Regions from separate parts of the Homo sapiens genome. Here region 2 is linked to region 1. The links come from fine-mapping of genetic effects on gene expression. A gene starts in region 1. The other region holds a variant in brackets. All regions are shown on one strand. Distances are from middle to middle. Region 1 holds the start of CNTN4-AS1 (CNTN4 antisense RNA 1). Region 2 overlaps CNTN4 (contactin 4).

The links. PIP is the estimated chance that this variant, and not a neighbour inherited with it, causes the effect. A credible set is the group of variants that fine-mapping cannot tell apart.
Region 2: its variant is the best candidate, but not a certain one, in a credible set for the expression of CNTN4-AS1 in thyroid (GTEx, PIP 0.51).

What each region holds. Positions count from the first base shown.
Region 1 is chr3:3,057,758-3,063,143 of GRCh38, reverse strand. It overlaps CNTN4-AS1 (CNTN4 antisense RNA 1), which reads left to right and starts at 1,999. Exons shown (of 4, transcript NR_046554.1): 1 at 1,999-2,077. It overlaps CNTN4 (contactin 4), which reads right to left. Exons shown (of 25, transcript NM_175607.3): 25 at 5,185-5,386.
Region 2 is chr3:2,417,635-2,423,020 of GRCh38, reverse strand. All of the region lies in intron 3 of CNTN4 (contactin 4), which reads right to left. Among named protein-coding and RNA genes, the nearest start is that of CNTN4-AS2, 280 kb to the right of the region's middle. RefSeq lists an enhancer at 4,021-4,190. The variant T/G (reference allele first, on the strand shown) is at 2,220.

The DNA of each region.
Region 1 (5,386 bases):
AAGAGGCTCAGTTAAAGTTGAATTTCAAATAAATATCACATGGGGCATACTTATACTAAGGAAGCATAATTTTTTTTTTATCTGAAATCTAAGTTTAATAGCTCCTCTCCTATTTTATTGGGTAATCCTGATCTTGAAGGGTAGCCGGAGTTTAAAGAAACAGCTCTAAGACACCTGAAGTCAAGGACAACGAACACGCAAAAAACAACATTTGCAGTCAAGGAAAGAGAAGCAGAGAAGCTGAGCCACTTTAGAGCAGACTGAAGCTCATGACTGCCTTTCCTTCTTGTTGCTATATGGGAACCGTATCTATCTGTCTATTTATCTATCTACCTACCTTATTGTTTATGTATCATCTATTTACAGATAGAGACATCTAATGTTTTGGAGTAGGGCCCTAAACCCAAGCCACCAGCATTTCAATTCCTGGTCTCTCTGATCAACTGTGTGATCAGGGACAAATGTGAACCTGTCAACCTCAATCCTCTGTGTATAAAATAGGAATAATAAATGGTAACTAAATCGGTAGGTTGATTTGCACTGAGTCTGGCACATATTATAAGCATAATCACTGTTTACTATTATTATTATCATTGCATTTCTCTGTATTGTGACAAAATACTGTTACTGGTGCCTTGGCTTCCTCACACACATCTGAATGCCACATCATTCTTCTATGCCCAGAATAGTGCCTGGTACAGAGAGGGCTGCCAGTAGTCCCTTGCTGAATAACTAAAACCCTCTCCAGGCACCTATCCTATCCCATTCCTCCAGATGGCTGTGCCCTGGGCCTGGCCGGCACTCAGAACTTCTCCACCTCCAGCATCTGAACCTCAGACATCTCACCCTTCTACCTCACCATTTCCTCTGGCCTACCTACTTGTCCTAGAATGTTCTCTAGTTGAACTTCAGAGTCTAGTTCCTTACTCCATCCTGTCCTTTCTCTAAGTACTTATTTCTAGGTGTATGAAATGCACTAATGAGTCTATGTTCTAAATTCTAGTCCTTCTTTTTTTTTTTTTCTTTTGTTTGAGACAGAGTCTCACTCTCTTGCCCAGGCTAGAGTGCAGTAGGGCAATCTCAGCTCACTACAACCTCTGCCTCCCAGGTTCAAGCAATCCTCCTGCCTCAGCCTCCTGGGTAACTGGGACTACAAGCACGTGCCACCATGCCCAGCTAATTTTTGTATTTTTAGTAGGAATGGGGTTTCACCATGTTGGCCAGGCTGGTCTCGAACTCTTGACCTTGTGATCCCCCCACCTCAGTCTCCCAAAGTGCTGGGATTACAGGTGTGAGCCACCATGCCCAGCCCTGACTTTCTAATTGTCTATGTTACTTTGGGCTTCTTATATAACCTCTTTGCTTCCATTTCATAAATAAAAAAGGAATAAAAACCTATGTCCTCCCCTTATTAGTGTGAAAAGCACTTTGAAAACTAGAAAAACAAATTAAAGATATTACTATTTGTTAAAGTCCTAGGACATATATATTTCCTGGTATAGTTCGTGTTATTCCTAACAATAAGGATATGTGGCAAAAACCCAGTTTACAGAGAATGGGGATATCACATGTAATTGCATCTATATTTAAGTAGCTCAGCCTTCCAATTTCCAGACTTTCAGATCGATCATATGGTTGACCTTTTTTAAAAAAAGCTTTCTCTCTATGTGATCTATATCACTAGAGCTCTGCTAATCTACCATGGCCCATAACTGCTTGTGATAAAGGATAGAGGCCAATTTTGTTTAAACTGTGATCTCTGTTGAGTATTGTAGTTTGCAGGTGAGTTGCAGAGCTGGAACATTTAATCCGCATGGCCCATTTAGCACAAGGGGAAACGGGGCCTCTTTGCAGAATGGGCAGCCTGACTTGCATTTACTAATCACACTCTGGCAGGGGGCCTGAGGAAATCACAGGAAACGGGGCCAGATATTCTCCTCCCTCTAGGTCTGAGATGGAGGTGACACAGGCCTTGTGCCTGGGAGCACAATGAGGAACCACACCCAGATGCCAACGCTGAGGTGCCGTGTGTCTACTATAAGGCGGAAGACACCAACAAAAATGATTTAAATATAAGGTACGAAGGGATGACTGACATGAGTGGGTACAGACCCCATCCCCTGGAGGTCAGAGAAATGCAAGGTCAATTTCAGATGGGGAAGCTGAGGGAGGCTTTGTGCAAAACCTGGCATCTGAATGGGAACCCTACTGCCTAAGTTTGAATTAGTTGATTGTATGATTAAAATTATCGAACATTAAAATTTATATTAAGAAGTGATCATGTTTAAATAAAAGGTGATAATGGATGTGTCAGCTGAGTTCCACTCATTTTGGTGATAAGAAGCATCCACATCCTACATCTGTGGGTCTAGTAAAGTCCCTGGAGAAAAAGAACAATAACAGACGGTAAAATCATCACTGTTTGGAGAGCTTTACAAACTTTATCCTCCCTAATAAGTAGCCAATCATTACAATGCACCCCAGGCAGTCAAACTCCAGGATCCACGTCCTTAGTCTTTGTATTAGGCTGCCTTTGTAAGGCCTCAGTGTCTGGCATTTTGTAATGGAAAAATCTGGGGTATGTCCACAGATTGAATATAAGTCCTTGATTTTAAAGGCTTGCCTTTCAAAGCACTATGGTTGGCCACATAACGTTTTTAGCCAGAACATTTTGTAAATTGTAACAACAGGAAAATAACAGTCACTTCTTGATTATAAGTGTTAACGGAGGAGAACAGTAGCATCGATAATCCAATGTAGTGAACAAAAATCACCTGTTGGTTGATTACATTAGATTAAAAACTGCATGACATTTTTGTTGCTAATTATGTGCTATTTGTATACTTTTTATAACTCAACATTCTTTGCGCATATTTGTAGTGAGGCAAGGTGGTGGAAGAGACTGGGTAAAGGTTAATCAGGATTTAACATTGCCTCCTGGATATAAACAACCACAATTTTGATGGTGGGAATAACACAATCATTCTTTCTTAATATCAAAGTCTATGCACCTTCTACCTCACAGGCTGGAAGAATTCAGAGCTTACCTGAGAAATGAAGCTTATCATCCATGTCTTCTGTGCCCATGGAAAGGTGCTGCTTTGTATGTAGCATGTGTGGGCTCCATAGAAAGTAGGTACACTGAGAGAATCCAAATATCTGGCACAATAGAATTTCCTTTCATACAGTTAAATCACAAGTGGACTACACACACAAAAAGGAGGGCAAGAGTAAGCACTTTGAAAGGTTAAACAAGCAAAGCAAATTTTCCTAGTGGTCCTCCTTCAGAAAAAAATCTCAAGCAGCAATATAGTCATTCCACTCGAGTGTATTACTTGGGCTAAGGGCCTAAGAAAGTCCCCTTGGCTGGCTAAGCCTAGAAAATCTGTTACTTATACCAACCCAGCATTTCTTCTCTTACCTTTGGAAAACAGCATCTTAGTTTTCCTTTAACTATCCCTCCCCTGTGAGTACAAGGTACTCTGGCTGTGGAACTCAAATGGAACTGATCACTTTCCCAGGAATCTGAATATTGAGCATAATGGCGTCAAAATTGGAAACAAAGCTGATTCATCCCCACAATAGCACCCCAAAAAGACTTTCCAAAGTTCCCATTGTCTGGACCCACAGAGTGGCCTGGTTCTTATTCTCCTCAAGAGTTGGTCCTTCAGTGTTTCCTTGGCTCATATGATGTAACCTGTGTCATTCTAATTCCTTACTTTTTGTTTGCTCAAGTTACCCAGGGTCGTTTCTTTGCTTACAGCCAGTGGACCCTACCTGAGGCAACCATGAAAGCCAACAAATGAGACAAGTTTGGGTGGAGGTGCTCATGGGGCACTTTCTAAAACATCTTCAATTCAGTTAGACTCAACTAATCCAGGACCTCATTTACCCGATGATGAAGCCAATTGGTCAAAGACTTCTTCCAGGTACAAAGTTAGAAGCCAGGCCTTTTAACGCTTTTCAGCACATAACGAAAGTAATGACACAGTCTTCCCTGGTTGGTTTGCTGTGGCACACAGGCAGGCAACTGATGCAAAATGCTACTTCAAAGACCCCTTCATTCAATTAATCAGTGAGTATTTATTGCAAGGCACTGTGCTAGGCACTATGGAGAGTACATGGAAGATAAGACCAAAGTCCCTGCCCTCAAGGAGCTTACAATCTAGTTGGGAAGACAAGCCATACATACAAGAAAAAGTAAGTAACAATACAGGAGTTAAATTAAAATGCAAGATAACAGTACAAGAGATTTCCAAAAGTAGTATCTGATTAATTACTAAATGAGCAGCATTGATAGGGGATGCAACTACTTCCAAGCGAGAATGTCATAAAGGACTGAAGCATGGGAAGTCTTTGCAGACAAACTGGGGCTGGAGCTACCCTAGGACAGCAGGGATCTGAATGGGAGAGAAGGGTGGAGAAGGCATTTCAGGAAGGGGCAGCCATAAGACCAAAGGCACAGAGGTGAGACCAAAAGCAAGCAGTGTTCAGGGGTCAGGGAGGGCTTACTGTGGCTGGATACACAGTTAAATCGTTTTGGATTAAAAAGGGCCTTAAGGGCCGGGTGCGGTGGCTCAAGCCTGTAATCCCAGCACTGTGGGAGGCCGAGGCGGGCAGATCACCTGAGGTCAGGTGTTTGAGACCAGCCTGACTAACATGGTGAAATCTCGTCTCTACTAAAAATCCAAAAATTAGTCCGGTGTAGTGGTGGGCGCCTCGGGAGGCTGAGGCAGGAGAATTGCTTGAACCTGGGAGGCGGAGGTTGCAGTGAGCCGAGATCGCAACATTGCACTCCAGCCTGGGTGACAAGAGTGAGACTCCGTCTCAAAAAAAAAAGAGCCTTAAATGCTCAAGCTTAGAACTTACCCTTTTAGCAATGGGGGGTGAGGGAAACAACAGATATACTTACAGTAAATATACAAAAGACTTAGCTAATCAAGAGAAAATATTCAAGTCTCATCTTCAGGACATTTACTTGTGGATTAGGACCCTCTCTACTTCCAAAGAGGATTTGAAATGGTGCTTCAGGGTTGTCAATTCCAAAGGAAAAGCTCTGGGTCATCTAGATTTGGGTAGAGACTTTTGAGTCCCTCTATGATCCCAAATTATAACTAGCACAAAGGTAAGCTAACAAATTCCCTGACAGGCAGGCAGGAAAAATGCTCCCGAAAGACAAGTATCTTTACAAATGACAGAATATTTATTAACAATACCTTTAAAAAAGATTACATATGCTAGATCACTGGTAAATATCATTTACACTGGGGTTGGGAACTCCCTGGGTGTCATTTTTTTTCGTTCATTTTATTATTTTGCTGATTTTTTTTTTGCATGTGATTTTAAATTTTATTTCAACATAGAAGTAACCATATCAAACTAAGAA
Region 2 (5,386 bases), 640 kb after region 1:
ACCCTAAGTTAATGTGAAAAAGAGGGCAACTAAAGCCAATGCTGCTTTTTCAGTTTGGCATGGAAATTCAAATTCGGCACTAGACATCCAGGACAGGTGGCAAACAGGAGTAAAAGAAATTTAGTTCCTGGACAACACACCACTAATTAATTTCCAGGAAATGTTATATCTCATTACCTGATGGTCCCTCCATGTCTACATGTGATAAAGCAACCCTTTGAAACCATGCCACACTCAGGCATTAGGGGAAACAGAATATCAGCAGCTCTCTCTTTATGTCAAAAGATCTCTACACTATGTGACAAAGAGCTAAATGTATTTCTTTCCAATTCTGAATTATTTTAAGGATGTACAGAGATTCAGGAAATCAATAAAATAAATTCTTGTAACCCATCCAGACCAGAAATACCAACAATCTATAGGGAAGAAGGAATTGGCAGTGAAGACCAGCTTATAAAGCAATGGCTTTAGATATAAGCACTTGATCCAAAACTTTGCTTATTTTCCTGATATAGGCTGTCAGGAATCCAAATAGTGCTCACTATTACAAATCATTTAGAACTTCTAATTGAGAAGGTACCTGTGGCTTCTAGAGGCTGTGAAAATGACAACATCTGTTTGGAGTTGGAAGGAACATTGCACACTATCAAATTCAGACATCCCATTTTATAAAAAGCTCTAAAGCCCAGGTCTCCTAACTCCTGAACTACTACTGTGTTTCTACCATGGAAATGTCTGGAAAGAGGGGGAAGGAGAGTTCCTTAAATGTAACTGGTATTGGAACCCAGGTTAAGGAGCAGGGGATAACACAAATTGACTTCAGAAATTGGTCTGCATTCCTCTATGGGCAGTGCTCTAGATGTGGTTAAAACCCCTCTCTAATTCTGTACAACTTCACCTCTGGTGAAAGCCACTTAGTGACACCTTGTGCTGCCTTTTTATTTTACTATTTTATTTTCTGAGTACGGAAAGATAAACTTATCCATAAAAGCTAATTACAGAGGCAGGATTAAATAGTGGCTAGGAGTACAAAATCAGGTACACTAATTTTTTTTTTTTATGAATGACATCTAAAAGGAAGGGAAAAGTACAAATTCTCTCCCAGACTCTTACTTCCTTGTGTGTTGTTGAGCAAATTATTTAATCTCTCTGTGACTAAAGTTTCTCCTTAGTAGAATGAGAATAGCATTGTTAGCTCAAAAGATGAGTTTTATTGCAGAGAAATATTGTAAAGTACTTAGCATTTTTTCTAACAAAGTAAATATTCAATAGTCAGCAATTGTATTACAAATGGTCTTGGTGTTTGCCCTATTTTCAATGAACAGATGTTAGAGTTTGGGGAGAACACATATGTCATTTAATAGAATGCCCAGTGAAGATGTGAAAAGGGCTTCAACTACTGATTGTCTGGTGCTATCCACTACAACAGAGAAGAAAAAAGAAATCAAGATAAACAATATGAAGGCTGGGGCTGGGAGCGGTGGCTAACATCTGTAATCCCAGCTCTTTGGAAGACCAAGGTGGGCAGATCACTTGAAGTCAGGAGTTTGAGATCAGCCTGGCCAACATGGTGAAACCATGTCTCTACTAAAAATACAAAAATTAGCTGGGCATGGTGGCAAGTGCCTATAATCCCAGCTACTCGGGAGGCTGAGGCAGGAAAATTGCTTGAACCCGTGAGTAGAGGTTGCACTGAGCTGAGATCACGCCACTGCACTCCAGCCTGGGCAACAGAGCCAGACTCCTAGTCAAGGAAAAAAAAAAAAAAAGAAACCCCCTGAAGGGTACCCACCCTAAAGCTCACTCCTAGTCACCTCTAATGCCTCACAAGAAGGCATTGCTTGTTATGCAATGGTGGTCATTAAGGTGATGGGGGAGGGCTAAACTGGGACTGGAATGTGAAAAATGTACCTGAAGCAAGGACTCTTCTGCAGACTCTTTCAACAGGGCATGTGTTTGCCAGTTGGGTGTGGGGTGTGTCTTAGTTTGAGTTTTCCCAGAAGCACATGTGTACTTCAAAAACAGGGCAAACACTGGGATCATTTAAAATGCAACTGCTGGGTCCTGAACGTTTACTTTATTAGGCAAAACGTGAAGTACATTCTTTCTCTGACAAAATACGGCCATCTCTTGAGGTAAGCAGTGCTATGCCATTTTACTGATCAGAAACGTTAATCACAGAAGCAGACTCTAAAACAAGTATTACAGTGTAACTAGTT[T/G]AAGAAGTGCAGGCCAGAAAGAAAATGAGGAAATGACAAGGGGATTGAAGGCGTCCAGTAAAGAACATTTGGCCAGGCGCGGTGGCCCACAGCTGCAATGCACTTTGGGAGGCAGAGGCAGGCAGATTACTTGAGGCCAGGAGTTCAAGACCAGTCTGGCCAACATGGTGAATCCGTGTCTCTACTAAAAATACAAAAAATAGGTGGGCATGGTAGTGCATGTCTGTAGTCCCAGCTACTCGGTAGACTGAGGCCCAAGAATTGCTTGAACCTGGGAGGCAGAGGTTGCAGTGACCCGAGATTGTGCCACTGGACTCCAGCCTGGGGGACAGAGTGAGACTCTGTCTCAAAGGAAAAAAAAAAAAGAATTTTCTATTCAAGCAGTGAATATAGCAGGCAATCCTGCAGAGAAACTCTGACATGACATAAAGCACACCTCACAGAGTTATCCCACCAGAGAGGTGAGAGAAGTTGGTATTTATACAGCACCTCTTGAGAGTCATTAATTAAGAACTATTCCTAGAGGGTTTTCTTTCTCCTTATATGAAGCTCACTTGTGCATATAAGCAGTGCAATTTCCCACAGTTTTTGGAAAAAGTGCTGAGGAACAAACCTGCAGATACTAGGAGTTAGAAGCATTCCTCAGAAACACAATTAAAGGTCTGAGGCATATGGATAGGGCACTGACAGCACCAGCTGCAGGGAGTCACAATGCTTGCTTGTACTATTGCACTGTATGAGGAACAACTTCTAGCAAATTCCCTGACTCTACATGCCAGACTGTCTTCCAGATGTCATGTTGCCAATGACCGTGGCTTTTGGCAGCATCCACACCTGGGACAATTCGATCTGTAACTAAAAATTACAGTCATCAAGCAGAGTAATTATAAACATTTAATAGTCTGAAACCACAGGGAAATAAGTATGTGAGCTGATATATTTGTATATGTTTGCATGTATAGGGAAGGAAAAGAAAAATGGGTCCTGGAAACCACACACATTTGTATAAACATGATTATTCCTTGAAAGACATGGTAAACTCATTTAATACAAGAAGGCATTTGGTTTTCTACAGGTTTCCTTAACATATTCTTTGCTTCCTCATCATCTTCTGCATGACACTATGTTATGTTTGTTAGTGGAAGTAAGTTTTAAAAACTGGTTGAAAATTTCATTTTAGATTTATTTACACAATGCTATTTGACATTTAAATGCTTTATCTTTTAGTTGCAGACTTCACTATTCGCAATGTTACCTTATGTTATCCATATTACATTTCACTAAAATGCCAGCATTTTTTGAAACATTGGGCTAGAATGGACTTACGGGTATCAGTTTATTCTGTACCCTGCCTAGGAACAAATAAACGTTGAATATATCCTGAACACATGAGAATCTCCAGAGGTAGATCTCCCCACTCCCACCTCTTTATTTCTTGATAGAAGATTCCAAGTTCTTTATTAACTCTATTCCTAAAAACTATAAAGTCTTAATAAAGTTGAATGTTCTAAGATACAGAAAGCTACATTAGAGTGGAATGTTACCTATATTCATTCGAGCTTTTCATCCAATATAATTTTTGGTATGTAACTCATGTCAGGAAATTACCTGGTATATGATTGATTACTTGCAATAATTGGAATATAAACTATTACTCAAAGCCACTTATATTTTCTCTCATAAGGGGTATCCAATTTTTAGAAATTATTTTTAAACGTGAACCATATAGCCATTTAACTTCTACCAATTAATCTTACTCATGAACCCTGGAGCTAATTTTAAATAATTTGACTTTTCCCATAAGATTCTGAGGAAGGCCTTTATCTTTTTGGGCATCAGTGCCCTTGTCCTGGCATGAGATCCAAAGCTTTTTTCATCCTACGGGTTGTAGGATTCTTTCCTTTCCTGGGATTCTCTAAACACAATAAAAATACAAACATCTAAATACAAATATCATGAACTGTAAATTATTCCCTTCTTTCACAATGCAAGCCAACATGGATTTAAAATGTTACTGATTACTTTCATCAATTCAATGTCCCTGATATTGTTTTATGTATTATTTTTTCTTAATATAACACCTTTGTTCTTTTATATATCAGAAATGCTGAAATATTTCCTTTCCTATAAACCCTGGATGTGCTTTACAAAAGTGAAACCTTTTTACTGATTCTTTATTTCAGCTTTATCAGCAGTTATTAAATAAAGAAATGCAATCGCCAAATTACAGCCTTATGCTGACACTGGACCATGTTAAGTAGTGTATAACAGAATCAAAAGTAAACATTTGCTACTGGGGCAAATTCTATTGTATCTAATGATTGAGTATCTAATGATTAGATTGATCTAATTTTAGTACCTGGGCTGTGAGCAGTTTTACGTTTTGAACCCTATGTCTTAGTTAGCATTTGTAAATACTTTCTGTGTATTATTTTGAAGAGGTTGTTCTAATCTCACATTTTGCCTCTGTGGTGATTTTTTAACAGACTTTATTTTTTCTAGGCAGCTTTAGGTTCACAGCAAAATTGAGGGGAAGGTGCAGAGATTTTCCATATATGCCTGCCCTCCTATACACACAGCCTCTCTGAACTATCAATATACCTCACCAGCGGTATATTTATTATCATCAGTGAACCCACATTGACATATCATTATCACCCAGAGTCCGGAGTTTACATTAGGGTTTACTCTTATGTTTTACACTCTATGGTTTTGGAAAAATTTGTAATAACATGTATCTGTATCTATCATTATAGTATCATATAGATTAGTTTCACTGCCGTAAAAATCCTCTGTGCTCTATTAATCTCTCCATCACCCCAAATCCCTGGCAACCACGGATCTTTTTACTCTTCCCATAGTCATTCTACCTTTTCCAGAATGTCATATAGTTGGAATAATAAAGTATATAGCTTTTTTCCCAGATTGGCTTTTTCACTTAGTAATACACATTTAAGTTTCTTCTATGTCTTTTCATGGCTTGATAGCTCATTTCTTTTTAGTGCCAAATATTATTCCATTCTCTAGGTGTACCACAGTTTACTTAACCATTCATCTACTGAAGGACATCTTGGTTGCTTCCAAGTTTTGGCAATTGTGAATAAAGCTGCTAGAAACATCAGTGTGCAGGTCTTTATGTAAACATAAGTTTTCACCTCCTTCGGGTA